Linked DNA regions of Homo sapiens: regions 1, 2, 3, 4 and 6 are each linked to region 5. The links come from fine-mapping of genetic effects on gene expression. A gene starts in region 5. Each other region holds a variant in brackets. All regions are shown on one strand. Distances are between the middles of the regions. Region 1 overlaps NADK (NAD kinase). Region 2 overlaps SKI (SKI proto-oncogene). Region 3 holds the start of MMP23B (matrix metallopeptidase 23B). Region 4 holds the start of CDK11B (cyclin dependent kinase 11B). Region 5 holds the start of SLC35E2B (solute carrier family 35 member E2B). Region 6 holds the start of MIR429 (microRNA 429).

The links.
Region 1: its variant is fine-mapped to the expression of SLC35E2B in whole blood (TOPMed, PIP above 0.99).
Region 2: its variant is fine-mapped to the expression of SLC35E2B in ileum (GTEx, PIP 0.99).
Region 3: its variant is fine-mapped to the expression of SLC35E2B in monocytes (Schmiedel 2018, PIP 0.95).
Region 4: its variant is fine-mapped to the expression of SLC35E2B in whole blood (INTERVAL, PIP above 0.99).
Region 6: its variant is fine-mapped to the expression of SLC35E2B in whole blood (TOPMed, PIP above 0.99).

The regions. Positions count from the first base shown.
Region 1 is chr1:1,772,465-1,777,532 of GRCh38, reverse strand. The region is part of intron 1 of NADK (NAD kinase); the gene reads left to right. Among named protein-coding and RNA genes, the nearest start is that of NADK, 3.5 kb to the left of the region's middle. RefSeq lists an enhancer at 2,924-3,425. The variant A/G (reference allele first, on the strand shown) is at 2,836.
Region 2 is chr1:2,285,799-2,290,866 of GRCh38, reverse strand. All of the region lies in intron 1 of SKI (SKI proto-oncogene), which reads right to left. Among named protein-coding and RNA genes, the nearest start is that of SKI, 60 kb to the right of the region's middle. The variant G/C (reference allele first, on the strand shown) is at 2,991.
Region 3 is chr1:1,629,492-1,634,559 of GRCh38, reverse strand. It overlaps MIB2 (MIB E3 ubiquitin protein ligase 2), which reads right to left. Exons shown (of 20, transcript NM_001170687.4): 18 at 4,994-5,068; 19 at 4,856-4,921; 20 at 3,955-4,268. The coding sequence ends at 4,030. MMP23B (matrix metallopeptidase 23B) reads right to left here and starts at 2,387. Exons shown (of 8, transcript NM_006983.2): 1 at 2,186-2,387; 2 at 1,647-1,777; 3 at 1,440-1,579; 4 at 1,205-1,372; 5 at 648-812; 6 at 461-571; 7 at 232-358; 8 at 1-109. The coding sequence starts at 2,341. It overlaps LOC124903821 (a long non-coding RNA gene), which reads left to right and starts at 2,774. Exons shown (of 3, transcript XR_007065352.1): 1 at 2,774-2,915; 2 at 3,985-5,068. RefSeq lists enhancers at 869-1,680, 3,781-4,344 and silencers at 3,834-3,983, 4,084-4,333. The variant A/G (reference allele first, on the strand shown) is at 2,850.
Region 4 is chr1:1,654,405-1,659,472 of GRCh38, reverse strand. CDK11B (cyclin dependent kinase 11B) reads left to right here and starts at 469. Exons shown (of 20, transcript NM_033486.3): 1 at 469-559; 2 at 1,975-2,098; 3 at 3,989-4,104. The coding sequence starts at 1,988. RefSeq lists enhancers at 83-362, 383-472, 1-626. The variant C/A (reference allele first, on the strand shown) is at 2,964.
Region 5 is chr1:1,690,650-1,695,717 of GRCh38, reverse strand. It overlaps SLC35E2B (solute carrier family 35 member E2B), which reads left to right and starts at 2,923. Exons shown (of 10, transcript NM_001290264.2): 1 at 2,923-3,269; 2 at 4,325-4,742. RefSeq lists silencers at 2,450-2,529, 3,100-3,259 and an enhancer at 3,094-3,388.
Region 6 is chr1:1,168,100-1,173,167 of GRCh38, reverse strand. MIR200BHG (MIR200B, MIR200A and MIR429 host gene) reads right to left here. Exons shown (of 2, transcript XR_007065348.1): 2 at 2,830-5,068. MIR429 (microRNA 429) reads right to left here and starts at 4,163; the gene lies at 4,081-4,163. TTLL10-AS1 (TTLL10 antisense RNA 1) reads left to right here. Exons shown (of 2, transcript NR_173246.1): 2 at 1-112. RefSeq lists an enhancer at 1,795-2,362. The variant T/C (reference allele first, on the strand shown) is at 2,436.

The DNA of each region.
Region 1 (5,068 bases), 82 kb before region 5:
AGTTTTACATTCAAAAGTTCATTATTCTTGGCTCTTGATGGGAATACATTTCAAAACTCTTCTCTTCTTGTGTTCCATGTCTCTCTGACAGCCTTAGTTGGCCTGAAACTGACATGTTTGCCTTAATAAGTTTTTTTTTCCTCCTGATGTCATCTTGTCTAAGAAGCTAGTTACTTTAACACCTTGTTAGATAATTCCCTTCAAGTACTTATTCCCCTGAACATTGTCCTCTCAAGCCTCTGGAAATTTCCTGTCCCCTTGGAACTTCTCTGTAAGGCCTGTTTGCTCTCAGCAGTGACTTCACTGGGACTTTTGCAGCCACTTTATGGTGTTAGCACGCTGATTCCAAGCTACTTGAGGAATCACAGGTGCCACCGCAGTACCCAACAAAATAGCTTCATCATTTGGAGGTGTCCTCTCGAGATGTTTCTGTGTGTATATGTGTGTGTATGTTAGAAACAGGGCCTCACTCTGTCCTCCAGGCGTGTTTATGGTGGCATGATTATAGCTCACTGTAACCTCAAATTCCTGGGCTCAATTGATCCTCCCACCTCAGCCTCCTGAGTAGCTGGGATTACAGGCCTGCACCACCACACCTAGCTGATTTATAAAATTTTTTGTAGAGATAGAGTCTCACTGTGTTGTCCAGGCTAGTCTCAACCTCCTGGCCTCAAGAGATCCTCCTGCCTCCACTTCCCAAAGTGCTGATCTTACAGACGTAAGCCACTTTGACCAGTCTTTTTTTTTTTTTTTTTTTTTTAAGACAGAGTCTAGCTCTGTTGCCCAGGCTGGAGTGCAGTGGCACAATCTCGGCTCACTGCAACCTCCACCTCCCGGGTTCAAGTGATTTTCCTGCCTCAGCCTCCTGAGTAGCTGGGATTACAGGCGCCCACCACCACGCTCAGCTAATTTTTGTATTTTTAGTAGAGACGGGTTTCACTGTGTTGGCCAGGCTTGTCTCGAACTCCTGACCTCGTGATCAGCCCACCTTGGCCTCCCAAAGTGCTGGGATTACAGGTGTGAGCCACCACAGCTTGCCTCACTTGGACCAGTCTTTTTGTTTGTTTGTTTCATTTGAACTTGGAGGTGGGTTTATGTTGTTTCAGTTGGCAGCCTGCTGTTTGGTTCCAAAACAGCATTTTCTTCTTGAAACAACTGCTGTCAGCAGTTAGATTTCCAGGCTAGCACAAAAACCTGTTTGACTCATAAATCCTTGTAGTGAGGGTGTCCCAGAAAGTTGGCCAAGTCAAGAGCAGTTCTTGTGGAGTGGAGGCGGTGAACAAATAGGGGGAAAGTGGCGCTCGTGATGAAAACGGAAAACAATAGTTGATTTTATTGAGCTTCACGCTTGAGGAAATGTAGGTCTCACTTGGAAAATTAAGAGGCAGGTGGGTGTTTGCGGGACTCGACGGCCTTGCATCTGGATTACCTCCAGTCTGCAGGTGTGGTAGGATGACAGCAAGAGGGAGTGTTGAGCACACAAGCCCAGCACTTGGGGGGAGGCTGTGTCATGGCAGGAAGGTACAGGGCCTCCTCCAGCAGCTCCACTTTCTAGTCCGTATATACCTGTTGACAGTCACCGCCCAGCTTCAGCCGTTCTGGACAAGTGGGTGTCAGTAATGCTTTAGCTTGTAACCCCAGGATTTCATTTCTACTCTCTGTGCTGGTGGCTTATCATTTGCAATCTTTCCTGGCCCACAATTGCAAAGGTCCTAGCATTCATGCATGGGAATGGGGAAGTGAATAAAATGTGTGTGTGTGCTTCAGACAGATGGTGAAAAGTGTTCAGAGAAAAAGCGAAATTGAGGCAGATGGGATGTGAGGATGCCACGCACACTTTGTGCAACTGAAGAGGGAGGTGATGCCTGGCCTTCCCATTCAGAACTGCCCAGACCCCTGTTTTCTTCATCTGCCCCTAAGTAGGTGGAGCCACATCTAAAGAAAGCCCCCTTCAGACCTGTAATCTGCTTAGGTTTAATGAGGTCACAGGGTGAAGCCCTGTGGTCACATGGCTGTAGCACTTTCCAGAAAGTCTTTCTCAGTTTGTATACTGCCAGTGTGCATGCCAGCACTGGGCATTATTTACCGGGGTGAGATGAGATGGGTAATTTAGTGGGCAGTAAGTTTTTTCCCACTCAGGGTTGAGGTTGAATGTTTCCCCATTTCTGTCACTAAATAAATTTTCCTTTTTCATTTAGTCTTGCAACAAATATTGATTGAGTTCTTACATGGGAACGAACTCGTGTATTATGTTTGTATTTGTGTGTGTGTGACTTTTGTTCATGTTCTTTGCACATTTATTTATTGGCATCTTAATGTTTTCCTTGCTACTTTGTATAAGTTCGTTATGAATATTTTCTTATTGTGCTCTAGTATTTTTTTCTAATAAAACTTCCTAATACAGAGGATTTTTTTTTTTTCTTTGAGGCGGAGTCTCACTCTGTCCCCCAGGCTGGAGGGCAGTGGCGTGATCTCAGCTCACTGCAACCTCTGCCGCCTGGGTTCAAGCGATTCTCCTGCCTCGGCCTCCTGAGTAGCTGGGATGACAGGCGCCTGCCACCGCGCCCAGCTAATTTTTTTTGTATTTTTAGTAGAGACGGAGTTTCACCATCTTGGCCAGGCTGGTGTTGAACTCCTGATGTCGTGATCTGCCCGCCTCGGCCTCCCAAAATGCTGGGATTACAGTCGTGAGCCACCATGCCCGCCCTACAAAGGTTTTTTAAAATTAGATTCATGCTATGAGGAATTTGAATGCACTTTGGTGCAGCTAGCATTGTGTGTCCTTTTAAAGCAGTTAATATATCAAACAAATGAATTAAGTGTCAGTCCTGACTC[A/G]CCCTTGTCAAAAAATACAGTGGTGACCGCGCACGGTGGCCACGCCTGCAATCCCAGCACTGTGGGAGGCCGAGGCACAATGGTGGCCGCGCGCAGTGGCCACGCCCGTAATCCCAGCACTGTGGGAGGCCGAGGCATAATGGTGGCCGTGCGCGGTGGCGACGCCTGCAATCCCAGCACTTTGGGAGGCCAAGGCGGGCGGATCATCTGAGGTTGAGAGTTTGAGACCAGCCTGACCAACATGGAGAAACCCCTCCATGTTGGAGAATTAAGAGGCAGGTCTCCACTAAAAATACAAAATTAGCTGGGCGTGGTGGCGCACACCTGTAGTCCCAGCTACTTGGGAAGCTGAGGCAGGAGAATTGCTTGAACCTGGGAGGCAGAGTTTGCGGTGAGCCGAGATCGCGCCACTGCACTCCAGCCTGGACAACATCAGCGAAGCTCCATCTCAAAAAAACAAAAAATACACTGGTTGTGGTATTGGAGATACTTGTTAAATATATATATATGTGTGTGTGTGTGTGTATATATATACACACACACACATACATAGGTGAAGATAATTGTTTAAAGTTGGTTTTAATATTTAATATTATTTTATAAATTAGTTTACTGCTTAGTCATCAAATTGATCTTCGCAAATAAATATGAACAGAGCTTCTAGGCTGGGTGCAGTGGCTCATGCCTGTAATCCCAATGCTTTGGGAGGTCAACACAGGAGGGCCACCAGAGCCCAGGAGTTCAAGGTCAGCCCGTTCAAGGTAGCGAGACCCTGTCTCTACAAAAAATTTAAAAATTAGCTGGACATAGTGGCTCATGCCTGTAGTCTCAGCTACATGGGAGGATCCCTTAAGCCTGGGAGATTGAGGCTGCAGTAAGCTGTAATTGCACCACTGCACTCCAGCTTAGGTGACAGAGCAAGACCCTACCTCTCAGTCTCTCAATATCTCTATTTCTCTCTCTCTCTCACACACACACACACACACACACACACACACACACACACACACACACACACACAAAATAGAGCTTCTAGGTAATGTAGCAGTAATAATACATTTTTTTTAACATTTTGTGATTTTGATTTGTTTATTTTTTATTAATGTTTTTGTAGAGACGGGGTCTTGCTGTGTTGCCCAGGCTGGTCTCCAATTCCTGGCTTCAGGTGATTCCCCTGCTTCGGCCTCCCAAAGTGCTGGGATTACAAGTGTGAGCCACTGTGTCTGACCTTTATTAACTGTTTATTTTGAAATAATTGGCTGGGTGCGGTGGCTCACACCTGTAATCCCAGCACTTTGGGAGGCCGAGGCGGGCGGATCACCTGAGGTCAGGAGTTTGAGGACCAACCTGGTCAACATGGTGAAACCCCATCTCTACTTAAAATACAAAAATTAGCCGGGTGTGGCGGCGGGCACCTGTAATCCCAGCTACTCAGGAGGCTGAGGCAGGAGAATTGCTTGAACCCTGGAGGCAGATGTTGCAGTGAGCCAAGATTGCGCCATTGCACTCCAACATGGGGGACAAGAGCGAGACTTCGTCTGGGGAAAAAAAAAATAATCATAGACTAATTCATAGGAAGTTGTAAAAATAGTACAGAGAGACCCCTGTGCCCTTCACCAGCTCCCTCTGTGTTAACATCTTTTTTTTTTTTTTTTTGAGATGGAGTTTGGCTCTTGTTGCCCAGGCTGGAGTGCAATGGCGTGATCTCAGCTCACCGCAACCTCCCCCTCCCAGGTTCAAGTGATTCTCCTGCCTCAGCCTCCCGAGTGGCTGGGATTACAGGCATGCGCCACCACGCCGGGCTGATTTTTTGTATTTTTAGTAGAAACGCGGTTTCTGCATGTTGGTCAGGCTGGTCTCAAACTCCTGACCTCAGGTGATCCGCCCGCCTTGGCCTCCGAAAGTGCTGGGATTACAGGCATGAGCCACCATGCCCGGCCCTTGTGTTAACATCTTACACCTCCATACACCTCCATAGTACAATATCAAAACCAGGGAATTGAAATACTGCTAACTAAACTATAGACCTTATTCAGGTTTCACCAGTTTTACATGTGTGTATGGCTCTATGCAGTGTTACCTCTTAAATTAATTATATAACCACTAGCAAGACACAGAACTGGTCTTGAACTCCTGGACTCAAGCGATCCTCCCGCCTCGGCCTCCCAAAGTGCTGGGATTACAGGCACAAGCCACCACACCCAACTGTATTTTAATTTTCTTAACAGTGTTT
Region 2 (5,068 bases), 600 kb before region 5:
GGAAGGCTGATTCACCAAGAATCGGACTCAATTAAGAGTGTTTCGTAAGAGCGGCAGGAGGGGGTGACAATGCGTCCTGCCATCCCCGGCTTTACAGGACGGCTCCGCAAGCCCAACCCTCACCCAAGCGCTAGCTGGGGCAGAAGGGGCCCTCAGACCAGTGAAGTATCTCAGCAGGTGCCCTCTTCCTCCTCCTCCTCCTGCCTACAAGACCTCAAACCACAGAAGGCATCGCTTGCCCCCAGCGCTGGCCCAGACACACGGCAGCGCACAGAAAACTCTGGGGGAGCCCCTGATGAGGTCAGAAGCTCTGACGACCCCAGCCCACCCGCCAACTGTTGTTCTGGGGCTGGTCTCTCTCCCCTGGTGTCTGGAAGCAAAGGCCCTGGGGCCTCATCTCAGATGCCCAGAAACACGTGCAGCACCAAACAGCCAGAGAGGTGCTCAGGCTGAGCAGTGCAGGGTGGCGGCTGTGTCCCCTCAGTTCCCAAGTGTCCCGCACAGAAGGCTGGCCTACCCCCAATCAGCTCACATCCACACTGCAGTCAAGAGTCCCCATCACAGCCACACCCTCACAGCTGCTCCCTGCCTGTGCCCTGGAGGCCCTCTCAAGAGGCTGAGAAGTAGCCTCTTCCCAGGAGCCCCGGGACTTGCCTGGGGCAAAGGCTCTGCCGGGGGCAGCCCAGGGCTGCCCTGCCTGATCTCTTAAGACCAAGGACTCCACCCCTTACAACCAACATCACCCTTGCCTTACCGACTCCCTCCCCACTCTAGGAACATCCCTGACCAACAGGGACCCCCGGCGCCACACAAGAGGGCAAGGGTCTCTGTGCTAGGGCACAAACAGCCATCCTAAGACCTTGAGGAAAGACTCCAAGGAGGGGGCTGTGGAGGTGGCATGTCCTGGAGCAACGTGGCCTGGAGGCGCCTCCTGCACCCCCTCTGTGGAGTGGCAAGCACCCCATGCTCACCCTGGCCAGGCCACCCCTTCCCTCTGCCCAGTCAGCCCAGCCAGGTGCTGCCCAGAGGGAGGCCAGGCCAGCCAGGCTCTTGGTGGAAGAGGACAACCCCTTCTCTGCTGTTTCCAAACCTCATCAGGGACGTCAACCCAGATGCTGCTGTGGGGCCAAACTGAGAGCTGTGGTCATCTCAAAAGGCTGGACAAGAAGCACACGGTGGGCTCGGGGGAGGGGAGAGCCGCTACAGCCAGCCCCGGGAGCACGACCTGTGCTGCACCCCCACCCCCACGATCTTGGTTCTCCTGCCCTGCCCTGCACCCCCCCACCCCCACGATCTTGGTTCTCCTGCCCTGCCCTGCACCCCCACCCCGATCTTGGTTCTCCTGCCCTGCCCTGCACCCCCCCACCCCCACGATCTTGGTTCTCCTGCCCTGCCCTGCGCGGGGCTCGGGGTTGGTGTAGCTCTGCAGTGCCACATTTGATCTTAGAGGAGGGGCCTCACAAAGTGGCCACGTGGTGACCAGCCCTCGAAGACTGGCTGGCAGGAGAGGTGGCCTGTAATGGGCATCTGGCCGCCTGCCACCCTCACCGAAGAGGGATGAAGACAAACAGCCATGGCCACTGAGACAGGTGTCAAGTCCTGACAGAGAGGAGGCAGGAGGGCCACCTCCGGGTCTCTGAGCTCCCTGCCTAGAGAGGCTCAACATAACAGAGGAGCTGCATCTCTAGCCTCTGCCTTCTGTGTGCTTTCTCACCAACCACTGCTCCTCGGGGAGGGGCAGCTGGGTCCTGAGGGCCTGAGCCACCAGGTCTCCTGCAGAACATGACCTTCCCCCAGCTCCACTTCCCGGGTGGGTGCAGCAAGCTGACCACACTGACAGCTCAGTGACAGGTGCATGCGATTCGGGAAAACCAGGCGGCACCGGGGACCTGCAGGAAGAGCGAGGCAGCTCCCGTCACCTGGAGGGGACCTGTCACCCAGCAGGCCCAAGGGTGGCTTCTGTGCACACCACTGCAGGCCTCACACACGTGGCGGGGGGAGGGGGTAGTTTTTGGAAGAGGGGATCAAAGGATGAAGACGAACTTGGTACCTGAGACAAGGTCCCCACCCCCACTATCACCAGCCTGAGGGCACTGCCATGACCCCAAAAATGCCAGCAGGCCAACAACAGCCCACCTCAGGCTAGTTTCATCCATGTGTGGAGGTGACCCACAGACAGCCACTGCCAGCTGACTCTGTGGCCAACCAAGGCCACTCAGGACAAGGGAAGGGAGCAGAGAACACATCCCACGACTCCCAGAGCAAAACCACCTGGGGGTCTCACGCGCATGCAAACAAATGTGCACGCACGAGCAAAGACAACTGTCTGCCTCTGAAAAGAGCCACTCCCACAGGAAACGACGACAACCAATCGTGTTCTCACTCCTAACCTCAAAATAAAACCGAATTCAGGGATCGGAACATGTACCTTTAAGTAAACAGCCCTGCTGGGCACAGTGGCTCATGCCTGTAATCTCAGCACTTTGGGAGACCAAGTCAGGTAGATCACCTGAGGTTAGGAGTTAGAGACCAGCCTGGCCCATGTGGAGAAACCCTGTCTCTACTAAAAATACAAAAATTAGCTGGGAATGGTGGTGCACACCTGTAATCCCAGCTATTTGGGAGGCTGAGGCGGGTGGATCACCTGAGGTCAGAAGTTCGAGACCAGCCTGGCCCATGTGGAGAAACCCCATCTCTACTAAATACAAAAATTAGCCAGGCGTGGTGGCACACGCCTGTGATCCCAGCTACTTGGGAGGCTGAGGCAGGAGAATCACTTGAACCCGGGAGGTGGAGGTTGGGGTGAGCCGAGATCGTGCCATTGCAGTCCAGCCTGGGCAACAAGAGTGAAACTCCGTCTCAAGGAAGAAAAAAAAAAAAGAAAGAAAAGAAAAAAGACAGACGAGAAACAGCCCTGAAAGCAGCCCTTGAGTGCCAGGCCAGGGCCAGGAGCGCCCAGGGCTCAAGGCGGGGCTCAGGGCTCGGGGTGG[G/C]GCCGGAGGGCGGTGCCATGCAGGAAGCTGGTCCATCGGGGACACACTGGAGACCCCAGAAAGGAGCCTGGGCTCATCCCCCAAGGTGAGGGGAGATCCCTGGGAATCCATCCATCTCACGGCTGCCACAAGCCCTGTCCTTCTAGGGGGAGACCACCCCCACGCCCCACACAGGGAAGGTGACGCATGCAAGACCCGTCCACACCCCCCCTGCGGCAGACCCTCGTAGCCCACCTTGAGACAGAGACCACCCCCACCCACAGGCAGAGCACACCTACCACCAACACTGCTATTTGGACTTGGATAAAACATTTGGACATTATCCATCCTGGCTAACACAGTGAAACCCCGTCTCTACTAAAAATACAAAAAATTAGCTGGGCGTGGTGGCGGGCACCTGTAGTCCCAGCTACTCGGGAGGCTGAGGCAGGAGAATGGCGTGAACCCGGGAGGCGGAGCTTGCAGTGAGCCGAGATCGCGCCACTGCCCTCCAGCCTGGGCGACAGAGCCAGACTCAGTCTCAAAAAAAAAAAAAAAATTGGATATTTCCATTTCTCACCAAATTGGAATTTTTCCTGTCCAAGGCCAACACTCTCTCATCTTTAAAATCTAAAGAAACGCATTCCCAAGTCGCCTCCACCTTCCCACACAAAATGGCAGTCTCCAGGCGCCCTGGAGCCCCGCACGGCCCAGGGTCCAGAGCACAGGTGCACCCTGGGCCAGGGCACCCCGGGCGGGAGGGTGCGCAGGGGCCCTCTAGATTTTCGCCCAGAGCTGGCTGCTGTGGGGCCTGCAGCTGGACACTCACGGCTGGACCACCGGGTCTGGGAAGAAAACGCCCTCCACTCGTTACTTTTCCATCCAGAGCTGGCTTTGTGGGCACGCAGCCATGTCCTGGGCTTAACGCTCTGTCCCCATCATTGGCATTCTGAACAGTTTCACCTTTGATAAGATGTTCTTTTATAAGCAAAGTTCTCCGTGACCACAGAGCATGCATGAGCAGAGGTGGCACACGCCACATGCAAGCCCACTGCCATTCCCAGCCCGTGTAAAGAGCGTCCAGTGGAGGAGGTCGCGTTGGTCCCACCCAGTCACTTTCTCCCACTAGCCCACGACCGGAGCCTTGGGAGGGAGGGAGACAGGCGCCCACAGCCCCCACACGCAGTCTGTCCTCACTCAGAGCGAGAGCTGCGTGGCCACATGGGTGAGTTAAGCGAACTCCAACAGCCAGGTTCATTTTGGGCAGCGTTTGCCCTGATGTGGTAAGAATAAAATGCACACGCACTTTAATTATTATATTTGGGGTTCAAATCAAGAACTGTGCAATTTTGATGATTCCACAAGTTAAACACTCTTACATTTGCATTTTATGATTTTTTAAAGAGACAAGGTCTCACTCTGTCACCCAGGCTGAGTGCGGTAGCATCATCATAGTTCACTGCAATCTCTGCCTCCCAGGCTGCTCAAGTGATCCTCCCCTCTCAGCCTCTAGAGTAGCTGGGCCTACAGGCACACTACCACACCCAGCTAATTTTTGTATTTTTGTAGAGATGGGGTTTCTCCATGTTGCCCAGGCTGGTCTCCTGGGCTCAAGTGATCTGCCCACCTTGTCCTTCCAAAGCACTGGAATGACAGGAGTGAGCCACTGCACCCGACCTGCATTTGCGTCTTAAACTGGCATTACACAAGGTAAAGATGAACAGTAGGCTGGGCGTGGTGGCCCATGCCTGTAATCCCAGCACTTTGGGAGGCCAAGGTGGGTGGACGACGAGGTCAGGAGTTCAAGACTAGCCTGGCCAATGTGGTGAAACCCCATCTCTACTAAAAATACAAAAATTAGCCGGGTGTGGCAGTGCGTGCCTGTAGTCCCAGCTACTCGGGAGGCTGAGGCAGGAGAATGGCGTGAACCGGGGAGGCAGAGCTTGCAGTGAGCCGAGATCGTGCCACTGTGCTCCAGCCTGGGCAACAGTGCGAGACTCCGTTTCAAAAAAAAAAAAAAAAAAAAACCTTCTGGCTGGTGCGGTGGCTCACGCCTGTAATCCCAGCACTTTAGGAGGTCCAGATGAGCAGATCATGTG
Region 3 (5,068 bases), 61 kb after region 5:
GGTGTAGGTGCCCTCATTGACGGCGTTGGCGATGATGCTCAGGTGCGCCTCGCCCAGGGCCAGGTAGCCGGGGTAGGAGAACTCCAGGGGCTCCTGGTCCTTGTACCAGCTGCAGGGGGGCGGGGCGTCTCCTGCAGGCACAGCCCCCCCCCCGGCTGCCTGCCCCGCACCCCTGCCCCAAGGCCGCCCGCGGGCTGCCCACCCCGAGGACCGCCCGGGGCGCTCACTCACTACACTTTCCCTTTCTTGTGGAGGATCTTCTGGCCGCAGCGGAAGGTCACGTTCCTGCCCTCGGGCACCAGCCTGGTTTTGGTCCTGGGGGGCGGTGGGGTGGTGGCCACCGTGGGGAAGGGGAATTCTGCTCCGGGTGGGGGAAAGAGCCCCGTCAGTGCCCCCTCAGCCCCGACCATGGCCAAGGCCCAGCTCCCACGCAGCCCTGTCCCGGCCCCGTGGGCATCACCGTAGCAGAAGTCGCAGCTGCTGGGGCAGAGCCTCTTCATGAGCCGCCGGCGAGCGTCGCAGAAGCCCCTCCGCGCCCAGGACGCGCACACGAACAGCCTGTCGAGGCATCCTATCGGGAGCGTGGGGAGCACGGCCTGGCTCAGGACCGCCCGGTCCCCGCCCTCCCGCCCGACAAAGGGACTCACCGTAGAGCCGGTGCAGCCCCCACAGCTCGTCCTGGGACAACGCCTTCCAGCCGCGCAGCGTGGCGTTCAGGTGCATGAGCGCCCGGCCGTGTTGTGAGTGCATCAGGCCCAGCGCGTGGCCGATCTCGTGGGCCGCCACGTGCACCAGGTCCGTGAGCCACACGCCTGCGGGCCCCGGGGGTCAGCGCCTGGGAGCCCCGGGCCCAGCCCCGCCGCCCGTGGGCCAGCTCCCCGAGGCCCGGTGTATCTGCTGGAGCGCAGCCGCGGAGCCGCCCTCGGCCGCAGCCACGGAAAGATAAGAATGTTCTGGGCCCAGGCGGTGAGCTCGGCCCCCAGGAATGCAGCTCCAGCTCCCGCTCCAGAGGCGCAGGGGGATGGGAAAGGGAGTTCAGGGCTGCCGGGATGGGGGCTCCCACGGGCTCCCCTCCTTGCCTGCTAGACTCCAGTGGCAGCCACCACCCCGGAAGGTCCCTCCTGCCGTCTGCCCCAAAGCCCGACCGCGGCAGCCCACTGTGCTGCAGAGGAGAGGCCTCCAGGAGGCCAGCCTGGACGGTCACCTTTCTTCCAGCTGTAGCGCGTGGGGCCCAGGACCCAGTACTCGCTGTCGTCGAAGTGGATGCCGCCGTGCGGGGGGAAGAAGGCGTGGGCCAGCTCCCCCGTGGGGCCGTCGAAGCAGTGGTGCAGCGCGGAGACCAGGCAGTCCGTGTGGTTGATCGGGTAGAAGCCTGGGGGGAGCACGGGGCTGAGAGGCCGGGCGCGCAGGGCCGGGCCGGGGCGGGGGCGGGCGCCCACCTATCCGGAGGTCGCTGGGCTGCTCGGGGGCCACCTCGCGGAAGCTGAAGGGGGACACGTCGCTCCACATGCGGAAGGCGGCAGCTAGGGCCCGCCGCGTCTCCCGCGGGCTCAGCAGGTTCCGCGGGAAGGAGAGGATCCTGCAGGGAGAGTGAGCTCAGCGGGCGCCGGCCGCGCCCCCTCCCCCGGGGCCCAGCCAGGGCGCACCTGTAGGTGAGGTTGAAGTGGTCCCAGCGCAGCCTGGCTGGAGTCAGCGTGTAGCGGCGTCTGCGGGGGGCCAGTGGGCCCGGGACCCGGGTGGGGGGGACCGCCGAGAGGCCCAGCGCAGCGACGTCTCCCTTCAGGGAAGAAAGCGTGCGTGGGAGGCATCGGTGACGGTCCCCAGGACCAAAAACTGCCGCGGAAAATGGACTGGAAGGAAACGGGGGTGGGGGTGCCCAGGGCTGGGAGCGGGCGTGGCGGGTCCTGTCTGCCTGTGGTTTCGGGTCTCCTAACCTGAGCGCCCTGTTGCACGTCCCTGGGAACGCGGCCCAGTGGAGGGGAAGGGGCTGAACAGCAGGGCGAGGCCTCCCACCCCTCCCAACAACTGGACACAGGGGCGTCCAACCCTCCGACCTCGGGACGCACATCCGGACCCTCAAACACCCCGCACACCCCGCACACGTCCTGCGGGCCCCCCGATAGACCAGACCCACAGACGTGAGGACCCCCCCAACCCGGCACCTGGCCTCCCCCCCGCCGCTCACCTGCGCTGCGCTCCAGGCCGGCACCGCCGGGGCCCCCAGCCGGGCCAGCAGCACCAGCGCGGGGAGGAGGCACAGGGCGACCAGCGCGGCTCCAAGCCAGCGGCGCTCGACGCCTGCCCCCGGGGCCTCCGAGGGGACACGGGCCCCGCGGCCCATGGCAGACTTGCTGTGGGGCTCAGGGCTGCATGGGGCAGCAAGGCGCGGGGGCCCGGGCCGCAGAGCCTCCGGGGAGGATCCGGAGGGGAGGCAGTGGCTCGGCGGCTCGGGTTACAGCCCGGTGTGGTGGGGGGGAGGGAGACGGGGCGGGAGAGGGGGCAAGGCTGCCCCTGAAGGGAACCAGCTGGCCCGTCCGTTGGCCGAGCTGCCTGCTGTCTCCAGCCGGGGGCATGGGGACCCGCGTCCCGTGGGCCAGGGGCAGAGGCCTGGGCATGGCCTGCTGGGCGGGGTCCTCGGAGGGGGGAGCGAAGAGGGCCCCAGGCAGCCCGGGAAGGGCAGCGCCAGGGCTCCCGCTTAGGAAAGGGTAGCAGTGGGGGTCCCCAAGCCCCCACTGCTGGGCAGTGAGTGATCTGGTGGCTTTTTTCCCAAATGGAATCCTCAAAAAACCCCTGAGCCCCACATGAGCGGAGTCTCCATCCTGGCCCAGGCAGCTGAGCTGGGCCGCAGG[A/G]GACGCGTCGCTCGCCTGACAGTGTCCCCGAGAGCTGGGAGGGGATGGCCGGATGGGGACGTGGCAGTGAGTATGGGGCGGTGGAGGGGGAGGCGGGGAGGGGGTGCGTGGGTAGGCAAGGGCCGCGGAGGGTGCCAGGTTGCGGGGCGGAGGGAGGGAACTTGCCAGGGTCTCCCGGGGAGCCGGGAAGGGGCGGGCCCTGGCTGCGGGAAGCCCCGTGGAGGGTAGCGCGTGAGGTGGAGGGTGTGTGGCTCCTAAATCCCCGGCTAGGCCCCAGCAAAGGGGAGAGGGAGACGGGAGGGACGGGAAACGGAGCTAAGCGCCGGGCCTGGAGGTCTGGACCGGTCCTGATTGGGGGCGGGGGCGGGGAGCTCGGAGACCCAAAGGTTCGACGGGGCGGCCGGCGTCCAGGCGCGAGCGGCTCTGGGCTGGGACCGAGACCGGGCACCGGCGTCCCGCGGGGCGGGGGTGGGGGATTGGGCAGAGGAGCAGGAGATTCCGAGCCAGACCGGCCTGTGTCTGTCTCGTCCCTCCCCGTTTTCCGCGCCGGCGTCGGGCCCAGGGTGACGGCAGCCCGGCCAACGGGGTCAGCGCCAAGCAGCTGGCGGCGGCCGCGGGCGGTTCTTGGAAAGCGCGAGAGGCTGGGCCTGGCCGCCGTATTTGCTCCGACACCGCCCCCCGCCCCCCCAGCTCGTCACCCCGCCTGCGTGCGCCCGGCCCCCAGACCCTGCCTGGGACGCCCCCCAACTAACTCCCTGCTGGGACGGGACCCCACAGCCCTGGGGAGTGTCGGGCCCCTTGGATCAGAGCGCGAGTCCCCGCGGCCGCCCCCAGGACGGAAGAGCGAGGGGGGCCCGGGGGCAGACACAGGAGTCCCCGCCCCGTCGGACCCGGGCCTGGGGGGCGGGAGGCGGCCGTGCCCGCGCCTGGAGGGTGTCCTGGCCCGAAGGCCGCAGTCCGGGCGGGAGTCTGGACCCGAGAGCCTGGGGCGGGCGGGGCGGACCCAGGGAAGGGCCCCCCCCCCCTCGCCCCCAGGCTCGCCCGCGTGTCCCGAGGGGAGGACCCCAGAGGCGCCCGGTCCCCCAGGCAGACAGCAGAGGCAACGTCCGAGAATCTTTCTTTTTATAAAACACAGGGCGGGGGCACGCGAAGGCAGCTCGGGCGCGGCGGACGGCGCGGCTCACACGAAGATCTGGATGCGGTCGCGGATGGGCTGGCGGCAGATGGGGCAGGCGCTGAGCGCGGAGCCGCAGGGGGCGCATGCGCCGTGGCCGCACTGGAACACGAGGCGGATGTGGCTGTCGATGCAGATGGGGCAGGTGATGCGTTCCTCCATCTGCCGGTAGCGGCTCTGCAGCTCCTCCACCAGCTGGCGCGGCGGGCCGGGGGCGGGGGCGGCGCTCGCCACCTCAGAGCCGTCTGCGGGGTGGGGGACGGGTGTGAGCTGGGAGGCCGGGTGGGGGAATGCGGGGAGCAGGGAGCTGCGGGGGGGCGAGGCTGGGGGCGGGGTGTCACCTGGGACGGGTTGTGACCTGCAAGGGGGGCTGGCGGGGTGGGTGATTTGGAGGCAGAGGTGGGGCCCGGGTGCGGGCAGGAGGTGAGCCGTGGAAATCAGGCATAAGGTGGTGTGCGGGCTGGAGTCAGGGCTGCAGGTGGGCTGTGAGCTGGGCCGGGGTGTGATGGGGGGGCGGTGCTCTGGGTGGGCTGTGATCTGGGGTGGGGCTATGGAGGGAGTGTGATCTGGGAGGGGCCGTGAAATCCAGCGGGGCTGGGGTGTGATGGGGGAGGAGGGTGTTACCTTGAGGCGGGGCTGTGGGCCGGGTGTGATCTGGAGCAGGCGGGGCTGGGGGCTGGGGGCTGGGGGGCCGGGTGTGAGCCTTGGGAGGGCGGGGTGTAACCTGGGGAAGGGCCATGGGCGGAAGTGTGGGAGGGAAGGGGTGGGGGACGGGGACCCGCGGGCCACCAGCTGAGCAGGAGGCGTGTTGGGGGCGCAGAGCCTCACCCACCTGGGCGCAGTTTCTTGCTGACGACCACCTGGCACCTGATGCACTTCTTCATCCTGCGCGCGCACTCTGCGAAGAGGAGAGCGCGGTTGGCTGCGGCCCTACTAGCCGGGCCTCCCCACCCCGGGGCCCCCCACTCACCCTCACACACGGTGCGGTGCTGGCACGGCGAGAACAGCACCAGCAGCGCCAGCTCGGAGCACACCAGGCACTCAG
Region 4 (5,068 bases), 36 kb after region 5:
CCTTTACAAGACACACAGACCTGAGGCGCCTCACGAGGTAACCAGCAGGTAAATGGAGCGCGCTCCACCCACCCGCCACTAGGGGTCCCAGCGGTCAAGGGGGTGGAATGCGGGCGTCCATCGCGAAGGCATTCTGCTCGCAAGCCTTGGCACAGGCGCGGGCTTCGCTACCGGAAAAGTCCCGGTAGGATTCCGGAAGCCGGCCACGCGTTCCGCGCAGGCGCAAACTGCTCCAAAAGTGGGCGTCGCTCCTCCGGAGTCCCGATTCCTGCGTCACAGCCCGCGCCGAAGTCGGAAGTGCGCTCACCGGGCTGTTTCTTCTGGCGTCCTGGACCTGAGCAAGCGCTGTTTTATGCGTTATCATCCCGCGCAGACACAGGAAGTGCCGCACAGAGCGAGCCCCTGTCGTTGTCTCGAGTTCTGGGCCGGAGGTCGGCTATTATATCATCATTACGCGCCAATACAGGAAGTGACGATACTTTTGGCGCGCGCCGGTTGCTGTTTCTTCTCTGGCTCCGGGACCGGCGGCGGCGGCGGCGGCAGCGGCGGCGGCGTAGGGGTGAGTTCCGACTGGGCGGACCAGGTGTGGGAGCGCGAGGAGAACTGCGCACCGAGGTCTTTCTTCCGAGCAGGCCTCGGAGCGGGGCGGACCCGGGCCCGGGGGCGAGCGACACCCTCGCTTCCGCGGACAGTCTCATCCCGCACGGAACTTTGGGTGGTGGAGGCGGCGGGTCCAAACGCTGTCTGGAGCCAACGTCTGCCAGGCTGAACCTCAAGTGTGCGGGACTGAACCCGAGGAAATAGCCCAGTGCCCGGGTCAGGTGGCCTTGTTCGCGAGCACATCTCGGAGCATCTCCCCGGTCTCAAGGTGCAGCTGTCCAGTGTGCTAGTGGCTTCACGTAGTCCAAGCGGTCTTTCTAGCAGATTCTGACAGTAAAAGCAGTGTTTGATGAGTGGCAGGTCCTGAGTTAAGAGCCTTTAAACGGATGATCTTTAATCCGCGATCGATACTATCACGTAGGTGTTGTTATTCTGGTTGTACGGAAGACTAAACTGAGGTGAATTACGTTACCCAAGACCATACAAGAATGACAGAAACGAGACTTGATTTCAAGCGGTCATTTTTCAGAACCCATCACTCTTTTTTGTCGCCCATGCTGCAGCGCAGTGGCTGTTCACAAGCGCACTTCAGCCTGGAACTCCTGGGCTCAATCGGTCTCCCATCTCAGCTTGCAGAGTATATGGGACTACAGGCGCTCGCCACCTTGCCTGGCTTACAACTTATCATTCTTGTTTTTTTTTCTTTTTTTTTTGAGACGGGGTCTTGCTGGAGTGCAGTGACGCGACCTCGGCTCACCGGAACCTCCGCCTTTCGGATTCAAGCGATTCTGCTGCCTCGGCCTCCCGAGTAGCTGGGATTACAGGCACCCGCCACCACGCCCAGCTAAGTTTTGTATTTTTAGTGGAGACAGGGTTTTCGCCGTGTTGGCCAGGCTGGTCTTGACCTCCTGACCTTGTGATCCACCCGCCTCAGCCTAGAGCTTACTTTTTTTTTTTTTTTTTTTTTTTTAACCAAGTCTTACTTTGTTATCTAGGCTGGAGTGCAGTGGCGCAGTCTTGGCTCATTGCAGCCTTGACCTCTCTGATTCAAGTGATCCTCCTGCCTCTAGCAGCCTCCTTCCTGTAGCTAGGAATACAGGCACGCGCCACCACACTGGGCTAACTTTTGTATTTTTTGTAGAGACGAGGTTTTGCCATGTTGCCCGGGCTGGTGTTGAACTCCGGAACTCCAGCGATCTGCTCGCCTCGGCCTCCCAAAGTGCTAGGGTTACCGTCTTGAGCCACTGCGCCGGGCACAACTTCTTATTCTTAATGAGGATTTATTCTGAATCCCTCAAAAGTGACTAGGTTCAAGTGTTCAGCACCATAGCTTGCTGTGTCCTGATGTAGGCTGAATTATTTTTCTTTTTGCAGTGTTTTAACTCAAATGGGTGATGAAAAGGACTCTTGGAAAGTGAAAACTTTAGATGAAATTCTTCAGGAAAAGAAACGAAGGAAGGAACAAGAGGAGAAAGCAGAGATAAAACGCTTAAAAAATGTAAGCCATATTTTTTAAGTAAGTGGTTTTCTTAAAGGAGATTTAATTTCTTTGCCCTCATTTTTCCATTAGAACAACGCTTCTTCGGTGAAGTTCTTTTGTACTTCCAAATGTCGCAGGTGAGCCCAAAATCTATTCTAAAAATTAACAAAAACATTCAAATATTCAGTTGACATTAAAGGCAGATTTAACACACTAAAGCTGTGTCTAGATTGAGCATACATGGAGAATAAAATACGTTGAATGTTAAGTCATTAGCAAAACTGGACTAATTTTTCTCGGTTCATTAGTATGTTCATAATACTATCTCTAAGTATTTTTAATATAGTGGGAACTTGCCTTGAAATTAATATAAATATTTTACATCTTTCTTGGTTTGCATGGTAATGTACTCAGGAAACCTTTTTAGTAATTTGGTAAGAGGCATTGGCAAAGTACCTCTTTTGCTAAGATCTTTAGCAGCATCATTTGGGATGTTAGTGAGTACAGGCATACCTTGTTGTATTGCACTTCACTTTATTATGCTTCACAGATATTGAAATTTTTCCAAATTAAAGGTTTGTAGCAACTCTGCATTGAGCATTTTTCCAATAGCATGTGCTCACTTTGTTAGCTTTTTTTTTGTTTTTGAGACGGAGTCTCGCACTGTCGCCCAGGGCCGGGTTCACGCCATTCTCCTGCCTCAGCCTCCCAAGTAGCTGGGACTACAGGGGCCCACCAACATGCCAAGCTAATTTTTTGTATTTTTTAGTAGAGATGGGGTCTCACGGTGTCAGCCAGGATGATCTTAATCTCCTGACCTCATGATCCACCCACCTCGGCCTCCCAAAGTGCTGGGATTACAACAGGCATGAGCCTCCGCGCC[C/A]GGCCTTTTTTGTTTGTTTTTGAGACAGTCTTGCTCCATTGCCCAGGCTGGAGTGCAGTGGCATGATCTCAGCTAACTGCCACCTCTGCCTCCTGTGTTCAAGCAGTTCTCCTGTCTCAGCCTCCTGAGTACCTGGGACTACAGGCACCTGCCAGCACGCTCGGCTAATTTTTATATTTTTAGTAGAGACGAGCTTTCACCTTGTTGGTCAGGCTGGTCTGGAACTCCTGACCTCAGGTGATTCACCTGCCTCACCCAGCCTCCCAAAGTGCTGGGATTACAGGCGTGAGCCACCATGCCTGACCTAAACCAAACTTTTATATGCGTTGGGAAACCAAAAAATCTGTGTGACTCACTTTATTGTGGTGTTTTGGAGCCAAACCCAAAATATCTCCAAGGGATGCCTGTACCATATGAGGTATCACAAAGTATTTGGTTTGCAAGATACGCCTTAAGATTCATTTTTGGCTCATATAAGCAACTAACATACTTGGCATAGAGTCTAATGTCCCTTGTCATATATGCTATTTTTAAATTTCTCATCTCAGGTTTCAGATTACAGAGAGTTGTAATTTTAATGTGATAAGATTTGAATTAAAGTTTGTTTGTTTGTTTGTTTGTTTTCCCTGATACGGAGTCTAACTCTGTCGCCAGGCTGGAGTGCAGTGGTGTGATCTCGGGTCACTGCAATGTCCGCCTCCCGGGTTCAAGCAGTTCCGGTCACTACGCCCAGCTAATTTTTGTATTTTTAGTAGAGATGGGGTTTCACTGTGTTGTCCAGGGTGGTCTCGAGCTCCTGACCTCGTGATCCGCCTGCCTGGGCCTCCCAAAGTGCTGGGATTACAAGCGTGAGCCACCACACCCGGCCAAAAGTTCTTTATATTTTATAACACTGGCTCATTCAGAGTATATATGAAAGTTTGTTTTGGGATGTTGCCCAGGTTTGATTATCATTAAAAATACTTTTATCTATGAAGAAAAAAAAACTTATAAAGAAAATGATTAACTTTCTCTTTGCTTCTTAGTCTGATGACCGGGATTCCAAGCGGGATTCCCTTGAGGAGGGGGAGCTGAGAGATCACCGCATGGAGATCACAATAAGGAACTCCCCGTATAGAAGAGAAGACTCTATGGAAGACAGGTGAGCGGATGTACAGATGTGCAAGACCCAGCTGTACACAGCCCTGGCCTGGCCGGTCCTTCCTAGGGTCGCTGTGACAACTGTGTGCTGTTGTAACTATTAAGGTTTACTCTTTCCTAGAGTTACTGTGACATAGCGTAACTATTGAGGTTTTTATGTCACAGTTGTGACTGACTCTCAAGTGTTGTCTGTGGCCCTCCAGACCCTTGCCCCTTCTTTCTGTAAAGAACTTTGCCATGTGTTACACTGATTAATAAAATATACTATATAGGATTTTGCACAGGCCAGGTGTGGTGGCTCACACTTGTAATCTCAGCACTTTCGGAGGCCAAGGCGGGCTGATCAGCTGAGGTCAGGAGTTCGAGACCAGTCTAGCCAACATGGTGAAACCCCGTCTTAAAAGGAAAAAAAGGCCGGGCGCGGTGGCTCACGCCTGTAATCCCAGCACTTTGGGAGGCCGAGGTGGGCGGATCACAAGGTCAGAAGATCAAGACCATCCTGGCTAACACAGTGAAACCCCGTCTCTACTAAAAATACAGAAAATTAGCCGGGCGTGGTGGCAGGCGCCTTTAGTCCCAGCTACTCGGGAGGCTGAGGCAAGAGAATGGCGTGAACCCAGGAGGTGGAGCTTGCAGTGAGACAAGATCATGTCACTGCACCCCAGCCTGGGCGACAGAGCAAGACCCCGCCTCTAAAAAAAAAAAAAGGAAAAAAAAGATTTTGCACAAATAAAGTAGAATGCTGAAAGATACCTGAGGAGGGCCGCTGATGAGAAATGTTCATATTGGCCGGACGCGGCAGCTCACGCCTGTAATCCCAGCACTTTGGGAGGCCGAGGCAGGCAGATCACTTCAGCCCAGGAGTTCAAGACCAGCCTGGGCAACACAGGGAGACCTCGTCTCTACACAAAATAAAAAAAAGAAGATGAGAAAAACTAAATGAGTTTTCCTGCCATAGCAGGTGC
Region 5 (5,068 bases):
GGGCATGGTGGCGGGTGCCTGTGATCCCAACTCCTCGGGAGGCTGAGGCAGAAGAATCTCTTGAACCTGGGAGGTGGAGCTTGCAGTGAGCCGAGATCGCGCCACTGCACTCCAGCCTGGGCGACAGAGTGAGACTCCGTCTCAAAAAAAAATAAAGGCCGGGCGTGGGGTAGCTCACGCCTGTAATCCCAGCACTTTGGGAGGCTGAAGCGGGCAGATCACAAGGTCAGGAGATGGAGAACATCTTGGCCAACATGGTGAAACCCTGTCTCTACTAAAAATATAAAAATTAGCTGGGCGTGAGGGCACACATCTGTAATCCCAGCTACTCAGGAGGCTGAGGCAGGAGAATCACTTGAACCCGGGAGGCGGAGGTTGCAGTGAGCTGAGATCGTGCCACTGCACTCCAACCTGGGCGATGAGAGCGAAATTCCATCTCAAAAAAAAAAGGAGTACTTTTTATAAATCTGCTTTTGAAATCATTTGGATACCACAGCGGCCCTGCTGACCACAACAGCTGAGACTGTTGGGCAAATCACCAGACATTTCTGGGTTTCCTGGAAAGTAGGAGAATCTACTTTGTAAACTGCTCTCAAATTTATGAACTCCGTGTGGATAGTGAACTCAGGCAGCAGGCAGGTGGCACTCCACTGCGTTAATTTCACTTCATTTTATAATTTTCTTTCTTCCTTTTTTTTTTTTTTTTTTTTTTGACGGAGTCTCACTCTGTCGCCAGGCTGGAGTGCAGTGGCCCAATCTTGGCTCACTGCAAGCTCTGCCTCCTGAGTTCAAGTGATTCTCCTGCCTCAGCCTCCCAAGTAGCTGGGATTACAGGCACGTGCCACCATGCCCGGCTAATTTTTTTTCGTATTTTTTGTAGAGACGGGGTTTCATCGTGTTAGCCAGGATGGTCTCGATCTCCTGACCTCGTGATCCGCCCGCCTCGGCCACCCAAAGTGCTGGGATTACAGGCGCGAGCCAACGCACCCAGCCTTTTTTTTTTTTTTTTTTTTTTTTTTTTTTTTTTTGTGAGACAAGGGTCTCACTCTGTCGCCCAGGCTGGAGTGTGGTGCTGTGATTCTAGCTCACTGCAGCCTCAAGCTCCCAGGCTCAAGCCATCCTCCCACCTCAGCCTCCCGAGTGGTTGGAACCACAGACACCATCGCTGCGCTCTGACCGGCTCCCGGGGGCGCTCCGTGCCCCTCCTCCTGCCCCACTCCTCTGGGGACATCCCCACCAAAGACCCCACGGGAGGAAACAGTCCCAGCCTCTGGCCCAACCCGGCTGCGGGCGCCACGGGGAAGCCTGGGGAAGGAGGCTGCCATCAGCCTCCTGAAGCTTTACGAAGGTTCATGCAACGGAAACAAAAACAAGTGGAAGTTTAACAAAACGTAAAAGTAATATTTATTTATTTATTTATTTATGAGATGAAGTCTCCCACTGTCGCCCAGGTCGGAGAGCAGCGGCGCTATCTCGCCTCACTGCAACCTTCAACTCCAAGGTTCAAGCGATTCTCCTGCCTCAACCTCCCGAGTAGCGGGGACCACAGGCACGCGCCACGAGACCCGGGTAATTTTTTTTTGTATTTTTAGTAGAGATGGGGGGGGGTTCACTATGTTGGCCAGGCTGGTCTCGAACTCCTGACCTCAGGCGATCCGCCCGCCTCAGCCTCTCAAAATGCTGGGATTACAGACGTGAGCCACCTCGCCCGGCCAAAAGTAATCTTTTCTTTTTTCTTTTGACAGGGAGTCTCGCTCTGTCGCCAGGCTGGAGTGCAGTGGCGCCATCTCGGCTCACTGCAACCTCCGCCTCCCGGGTTCAGGTGATCCTCCTTCCTCAGCCTCCGGAGTAGCTGGGATTACAGGCGCCCGCCACCACGCCCGGCCAATTTTTGTATTTTTAGTAGAGACGACGTTTTACCACGTTGGCCATACCAGGCTGGTCTCAAGCTCCTGACCTCGTGATGCGCCGGCCTCGGCCTCCCAAAGTGTTGAGATTACAGGCGTGAGCCACCGGGCCCGGCCCAAAAGTAATCTCTAAAGAGCCCTTTAGCCGTAACTTCATTCCTGAAAATTATTTGGGAAAGTAACGCTAGGAAAACGCTCGACGAAGCTCCGGAGCCGGGGGTCCTCGGGGCCGCAGGCGCGCCCGCGGGTGTCTGCTCCGGATGTCCCGCGGCAGCCCCGACGCCAGCCTGGATACGAAGGCCCCGCCCCGGAGCGCGCCACCAGCCAATCAGCGCCCTGAGGCGAGTCCTCACCCCGCGCGGCGGCCCCGCCCCCCGCAGCTCCGGGCCCAGCTGTCAGAGCAGCTTTCCCTCAGGCTGGGCGGAGCGTGGCCACTTCCGCCAGGAGGCGCCTTTGTGTCTTCTAAGTTAAGCCTATTCAGTGGATTTCTTATTCCTGGAACCCAAACCTGGGCAGTAAACCCTCCGGGGCTTAGAGGCCGCTGCCTCCACAGACTGGCCGATCCCGCCCTGAAGTGCCGCTGGTGGAACAGCCCGGGCGGAACCGCCCGGGCGGAACCAACGGGCTGCCGCGGGGGGTGGGGCCACGGTCCCCCCCCTTCTGCCTTCAGTGGAACGGCCCCGGCGGAACCAACGGGCCACGGGGATGCACTACGCGCACCGTCGTCCTCTCCCTCTGCCTGCAGTGGAACGGCCCGGGCGGAACCAACGTGCGGCCGCCCGGAGCACTCGGCGCGCCGTGTCCCTCCCCGTGTGGCTGCACTGCAACGGCCCGGGCTGGACCACCAGGCGGCAGCGGAGAGGCACTTAAAAGCCCCGTGTTACCCTAGACCTTAAAAAAAAAAAAAAAACTGCGTGTTTCCACCCCCGTCGGCCTGCAGTGGAAGGGCCCGAGCAGAACCAACGGGGGAGGGGACGCTGAGCGCGCCGTGTTTCTCCTCCCGTCTGCCTGGAGTAGAACGGCCCGGGCGGAACCAACGGGCAGCCGCGGGGGCGTTGTGGGCCGCGGCGCGTTTCCCCGGCTCCGTGGCTCTGGGGCACTGAGGAGCGGCGCCCGCGGGGCAGCGAGGAGCCCGATGCAGGGTTCTGCGCGTCATTTCCGGTCCCGCGGGCGCCCCGTGAAGCCCACCTGGATCCGCCAGCGCTGTGCCACTCCCCAGTGCCGAGCTCCGAGCTGTCTCCGCGGCCTCGCGCCCGGCCCCTCCACCGCGCGCCTCTCAGGCCCCGCCCGCCAGCGTCCCTTTGTTGTGAAGGCGCCGGGGCCTAGCGCTATGCCTGCGGCGGAGACTGCATCAGGCTCTCGGTGGGTTCTGCGTGCGGGGTGCTCTGCTCGGTGATCGGTGCTGGGTGCTGCGTGCTCGGTGCTCGGTGCTGGGTGCTGGGTGCCGGTACTGATGCTGAGTGTGCGGGCGTCCGGGGTTTCCCTGCCCGGATTCGCTCCTGGGGGTCCTTTCCTATGGCTGGCGCTGTGCGCGGAAAACGCTGGTGGGGTTTTCCCAGCTGGCTTTAAGCGTTTTCACGTCCGGGAGTCCACGGCGACCCCCACGCCCTGAAGCCTGGGAACGCGGTGTGCGTGGCCGCAAAAAGAACAACAACAACAAAAAAACACAAAACAAAACACGCAAAAAACTAAAGCAAAACTCCCGACAGCCGAGCCCCGTTCGGTGCCTTTTCTTTTTTTTTTTCTTTAATGGAGTGAAATCTACTTTGCTCAGGAAGCCTGCAAATCACATTTTCAGGCCAAACGAGGCAGTATTTTAGAAGGGGTCGCTGAGGCAGGAGTAGGAAGGCTTTCCACTCCACTCACGCATTTTCAGTGTAGGCGAATCGTAAAACGGAGGGCAGAACGAAAATGAGCGGATCTGGGAGTGCAGGCTGCGCTTCGTCCACATCGATAACAGATGTTTCCTGGTGAAGATGTGTAGGGCGCAGCGGGTCACCTGGTCGGGGGAGGGCACAGGGCGTCCCTCCACGGGGTGCCTTTGGCGTTGGGCACTTGTGTGGTCTCCAGCTTCCGGGTTTTGGAAGCGGAGTGTCCCCTGCAGCCTGAGCCTCTTGCAGGTGGTTTCCTTGGGACGAACTCCCAGGGGGAGGTCTGAGTTCTGGGGCATGGTTTGAAGATTTGGGACACATTTTGCCTGAAATTCCCTGCTGGCCGTTTGAACCCACCTGGACTTCCTGACCAGGGGCACGGATTCTTAACCTCTGGTGCAGGGGCCTGGCTAGGAGAGGTCTGCACAGTTGGACGAGGTGCAAAGTGACGCTTTGTCAGTAACCCGGCGTTGAGATTCCTGTGGTGGGACGAGCAGCTCCTATGGCTTTATCCCATTTTAAATCCAAGTTTTCTTTTCCTTCTAGTCCTCGGGCTCCACCCGGGGAGCTGTGCCCAGACAGCAGAAGGGAAGGATGTCACTTCTGAGATGAGGTTCAGAAAGGTCTGGGCTCCTGTCCTGGCTGCTCTCTCCCACTCCCTGATGAGCTTGCTGGATGAAAGCTCCTGTCAGGCTGTGGGGCGTCCTGTGGAGAAGCTGGCAAGAAACTGGTGGGGGCCCTTTCCACCTATAGCCAGCAAGGAACTGAACCCAGCCAGCGTCCACCTGAGTGAGCTCAGAGGTGGGCCTCAGCCCCAGTTGAGCCTTCGGATGAGGTCACAGCCCTGGTCCATGGTGTGACTGCAGCTTCAGGAGGGACCTTAAGCCAGAGGTGCCTGGCTAAGCTTCCCGCAGATTGCTGCCCCACAGGAGCCAACATCAAAAGCATTTGTTGTTTTGAGGTGGTAAGTGTGGAATGACTGTTACAGGGCAGTAGAGAAGGAGCATGCACCCTTCCTGCTTCTTATTTGCCTTTTAGAAATTGTCCTCTGTGAATCGCTTGAACCTGGGAGGTTGAGGTTGCAGTGAGCTGATATCTCACCACTGCACTCCAGCCTGGGCGACAGGAGCGAAACTCCTTCTCCAAAAACATAAATTCTTCTCTGTGAAATATGTTGTTTTGTTTTTTTTTTTTCTTTACTTTTTGAGACGGAGTCTTGCTGTGTCACCCAGGCTGGAGCAGGCGCAGTCTCAGCTCACTGCAACCTCCGCCTCCCAGGTTCAAGTGATT
Region 6 (5,068 bases), 520 kb after region 5:
ACCTATAGGCACCCCAGCCCGTAGGCGGCAGTGGGCTCTGGCATCCAGCTGGTCCCCCACCTCTGCAGGTGTTTGCAATGTACCCGTGTTGATGTAAGGCTGCCCTTTCTCCATCTCTGTGTGTCTTTGTTTAACCCTCACATTCTCTCTTTTTTTTTTTTCAAAATACGGAGTCTCACTCTTTTGCCCAGGCTGGAGTGCAATGGTACGGTCTCGGCTCACTGCAACCTCCGCCTCCCAGGATCAAGCAATTCTCCTGCCTCAGCCTCCCGAGTAGCTGGGATTACAGGTGCCCACCACAGTGCCCAGCTAATTTTTGTATTTTTAATATTAATTTTATTTTTTATTTTTATTTTGTTTTATATTTTATATATTTATTATTTTATATATTATTTTCTATATTATTATAATTATTTTATTATTAATTTATTATTAATTTTAGAGGGTTTCATCATGTTGGCCAGGCTGCTCTTGAACTCCTGACCTCAGGTGATCCGCCCGCCTCGGCCTCCCAAAGTGCTGGGATTACAGGCGTGAGTCACTGCGCCTGGCCTGCCCTCGCCTTCTCTTTAAAACACCTAATGATACGAGGTCTGGGAGTCCTGGGCTCCTGGCATGACCCATGGCACGGTCTGATCCCCTCTGCCTCAAACTCTGAGCCTCCAGCCACGTGTCCCCTACCCATCCGTGTCCTTCAGAGCTTTGCGTGGGTCACGAGGGCCTCTGTGCTTAGGGTCCCCTTGCAGGGGGCTGGTGGTGCCCCCAAAAGACAACCACATCATAGCCCTGAAACCTCGAATGTGACCTTATTTAGAAGAAGGGGCTTTGCAGGTGGGGTTACGTCAGGATCTCTAGTGACATCACCCAGGGCAGGCCCTGAATCAATGGCCTCTGCCCCCCTGAGAGGGAGGTGGAGAGAGGAGACGCAGACGTGGGGGAGACGCCGTGGGACTGGGGGGCAGAGATGGGTGACACGGCCACAGCCACTGATGCCTGAGCTGGCAGGGGCTGGGGAGGCAGACAGGGTCCTCTCCTGGAGCCCCCAGAGGGGTGCAGCCCTGCCTGCCCTGTGGCTTTGGAGTTCTGGCCTCCAGATGCGGGCGTAAGCGTCTGTTGTTGTGCCTGCCTGTGTGGTTTTTCAGCAGCCGGGAGGAGAAGCCACCCTTTCGAGAGTGTGGTGCCCGCTCCGGAGCCGCCTCCCCGACCCACGCCGGGGCGGCAGCCTGGGGGTTCCCCGCTCTGTGTCCCTGGGGCCTGAGCTGTGGGGGAAGAAGGGGCCCCGGCTGTCCCTGGGGAGTCCCTGGAAGGAAGAGAGAGCTCTCGGAAGCGGGGCGGTGGGGGGCGTCTCCCACCGTCCTCCTGGTTCTGTCCAGCTGGGAACAGTGTCCTCGTCCCCTCCCCGCACTCCCACCTTGCGCCTGGTGCTCAAGCTTTGAGATGGTCCCGCTGGACCCTGGTGCGGAGCAGACCCAGGAGGCCCCTCTGCCCTCTGGGAGCCTCAGGTCAGGTGGCAGGTGGGGCTGGGGCAGGTCCTGGGCTGAGTGGCTGGGCCTTCGGGGAGCAGGGCCCACTTGGTGGGGGTGACGGGTGGGGGGTTCCTTCGGTGGCTGCTGTGGCTCTCCAGGCTGGGAGCAGCAGATCCGGGTTCGGAAGCTCTGACTCTGGGAAGGGGCCTACGTGTGTCCCCTCCTCCCTGAGGCTGAGGCAGGTGGCCTGACAGGAGCTGATGGGGATGGGAAGGACTCGCCCAGCTCCTCTCCAGAACTGGCCCTTCCGGGAACAGAGCAAGGCAGGGTCCTTGCCCCTGGGCTGGGAGGGAGAGCCCCGTGTTCATCTTTGTGGCGCACCGGCCTTTGGAGGATGTGATCTGGACACACACCTCGGAGGACGGGTTTCCTTGTGTGGGGGGAGAGGGGGTGCAGCGGGCAGGTCCCCCAACCCCTGCAGCCTCCCCTCCCTGGGGCCCCACACAGGCCTGAGGACTCCCCACCGCCCTCAGAAGCCCCCAGGCTCCCCAGCCAGGCACTACCTCGTCCCTCACAGCTTTCCTGAGTTCAAACTTGAAAACTCTGCCCCTTAATCCCAAAATCTGGGTGGTGTGGCAGCCACGGATACCTGTAGCCCCAGCAAGGTTCCTGCGCAGGGCAGGTGGGAGCAGGACCTTGGGCCGTGGGTGTGCCCGGCCCGCGTGTCCAGGTGGGTGCAGCCCCCAGGGCCAGGCAGAATGGGGGAGGCCTGGCACCTCTCGGGCAGTGGGTGGGGTCTCCAGGCAGGCCAGGCCCTGCCACTGGAAGGGAGGTGGCCCCTTTGCCACCAACCTGTGGCTGTCACCGGGGCAGGTGTGGCTGGACCAGGAAGCCCTCCTGGCTGGCGCCTGGCTGCCTCCATCCTGTCCGCAGCCCTCGCTCCTGCTGGCCGGCACCATACGCTCTTGG[T/C]CACCTGCTCAGAGAGGCCCCCCAGGGCCACCGGCTGCCCCCTCGGTAGCTCCCTTCAGCACAGGCTGAGGTGTCTCCACTCAGGGACTCCCCCTTCCCCCAGAACCTTGACCTGAGCTGACCACAGGAGAGTCAGGGAAGATTCCTGAGCAAAAGAAGGAGGGAGGGAGGGACGGAGAGAGGAGGAGGAGGGAGGAGGGGGAAGGAGGGATGGAGGAGAGGAAGGAGGAGGGGGAGGGAAAGAGGAGGGAAGGGAGGGAGGGAGCCTCTCCCAGGAACCTTGGGGGCCTCCGGGGCCGGATGCAGTGTCTGGGGTTCTGTCCTCAGCTGGGCCCTTTGCACGGCGGGGGTCTGTGCACGTGTGGTTAAAATAAGGAGCTGGTCCAAGCATGGGTGCGTGAACTGCAGACTTTATTACTATACAAAGACTTTTTTCTGTTTTGTTCCCGGTGCTTATGGAGAGGAGGAGGAGGAGGAGAAACCGCACAGGGAGGCTCTGGGTACGGCCCCGCCAGCCCCAGCAGGGTCCTTCCTGTCACACCCCGTGCAACGCAGCAGGCGCTGTGGAGAGTGAGCCCCACTGCAGTGTGGGGCGCAACTTCATCCGAGGGGTGCTTGGAGGGACTGGCCAGACGGGCACAGCGGTGAGGAGGTGCTGGGATGGGGAAGGTCCCCGAGCTCCGGGCGGTGTTGGATGAGCTCAGGCTCACAGGTGTGGCCCTGCCTGGCCCGAGCTCTCCAGGTGTGTCCAAACCTTGTGTTATATGCACCTTGCAGTCCAGGGCTCACCCGTGCGGTCTGGTGAGGTGGACGCCACATTCTGGGGGTGGCACTCCAAGTTCTTCCCCACACACGTCGCTCAGGCGGCAGCAGCATGGGGGTGGTTTCAGCTGGCCCTGCGGGGGACTGCCCCATCTCCCCAGGGAGGAAAGAGGGTCTGGAGATAGCCCCGGGTGGGGGAGGTCAACCTGCAGATCCCGGCTTGGGGACAGCTCCAGATGACACCTCGTGAGCCGCCTGGGGTGGAGGGGCCCCCAGTGCAGGGCTGCGTGGCCCCAAGCACCTGCCTTCCCTATCCCATGGTCTTGCAGCTGGGCACCGGCCCCGCCCGCCTCAGCCCCAGAGATGGGCCCTGGAGGGAGAGTGTGGTCTGCATCCCACGGCTGGCCCCTGGAGGAGGAGGGCCAGGGCTGGCCCCGGGAACCTCCCAGAGGTCTCTGCGTCCTGCTGCCTGGCCGCTGAGACGCTGTGACATTGTCCCTGCTGGGCATTTGTGCTCCTCCGTGCCCTGGGCTCAGGCACTTTGGGGGGCCCAGCTGCTTCTGTCTCAGCCTCCCCAGGTGGCGAGGGGGCTGGGGCTGTGGGGTGGGGCTCCGGGTATCTGTGACTGTGACCCCAGGGGCCAGGCTGATAGCACGGGGTCCACAGCATCTGCCCGGGGACTACAGCTCGAGGGCCCCAGGAGGCCGGGTGGGCACAGGCCATGGCGAGGGTGGGGCACAAGAGCCCCAGACCCCGGCGGCTTTGCACTGATGGGCTGCGGATGGGCACAGGCCATAGTGAGGGGGGCATGAGAGCCCCAGACCGGGCGGCTTTGCACTGATGAGCTGCAGGGCAGGCAGCTCTCTCCTCTAACGGTGATCAGGCAGCGGATGGACGGTTTTACCAGACAGTATTAGACAGAGGGCCAGGTCTAACCATGTCTGGTAAGACGCCCATCGGCCGGCGGTGGTGTGGGTGGCCTCCGGGTCCTGGGCTGGTGTCTGCGGGGCCTGTGAAGGGAAGGCCCCGGGGGCGGCTCCTGCCACCTCCTGCAGCTGCCCTGATCCCTCCTGGGTCTGCAGAACGAGCCCCCGAGGCACTTCCCTGACAGCCCCCATCCCAGCACCTGGTCCCAGCCCAGCCTGGCTGTGTGGGGGTACCCGGGAGCCACCTGGTCACCCAGGCCCTGCTCTTGGCAAAGGTTCCCTGCAGCCCCTCGCTGGCTTCCTGAAGCTCGGTCGGGTTAATGAGTAACAGTGAAGGGCAGCCTCTCCCCGGTGGCTGCCCCCTCCCCAGGCTGGGGCCTTGTGTGGGGGTGCGGTCCCAGGCGCCCTGGTTGCAGATGGAAAAGATGAAACAATGGGTCATCCTGGCCTGGTGGGTTTTGGACAAAGTTCCTGTTCTTGTTGACTGGGGGAAGGAATGAGACCCCTTGTCCCTCAGAGGGCAAGCGCAGAGCGTCCCCGCTCCCCTGCATGGTGGGGCTCGGGAATCTGAACCCACCTTGTCCTTCCTGCGCCCCCAGCAGACCCTCCACGGAGCCCGGACCACGTGAGAGAGGCCACTGTTGCTCTTCCCTCTCCAGCCCTGGCATCCCAGCCCTATGGCCTTTCCTGGAGCCAGGTCACCCTAAAACCCAGCCTGGGAGGTTGGGTGGGGGAGGCACAGCGGCTCCGGGAGGGGGAGCAGGATGCCCTCCAGGCCACCTGTGGAGGCACCAAGGGGTCCTCAAGGTGTCAGACCCAGCCTGGGCGTGAGTGACCCCGGGGGCACCCCCGGCAGAGGCCGGCCCCTCCCCTGGGGGCTGGACTTCGGAGCTGACACAGGCCCTCTGCCGCCCGCTCAGCCCTCCGCCCTCACCCGTCTGCTGG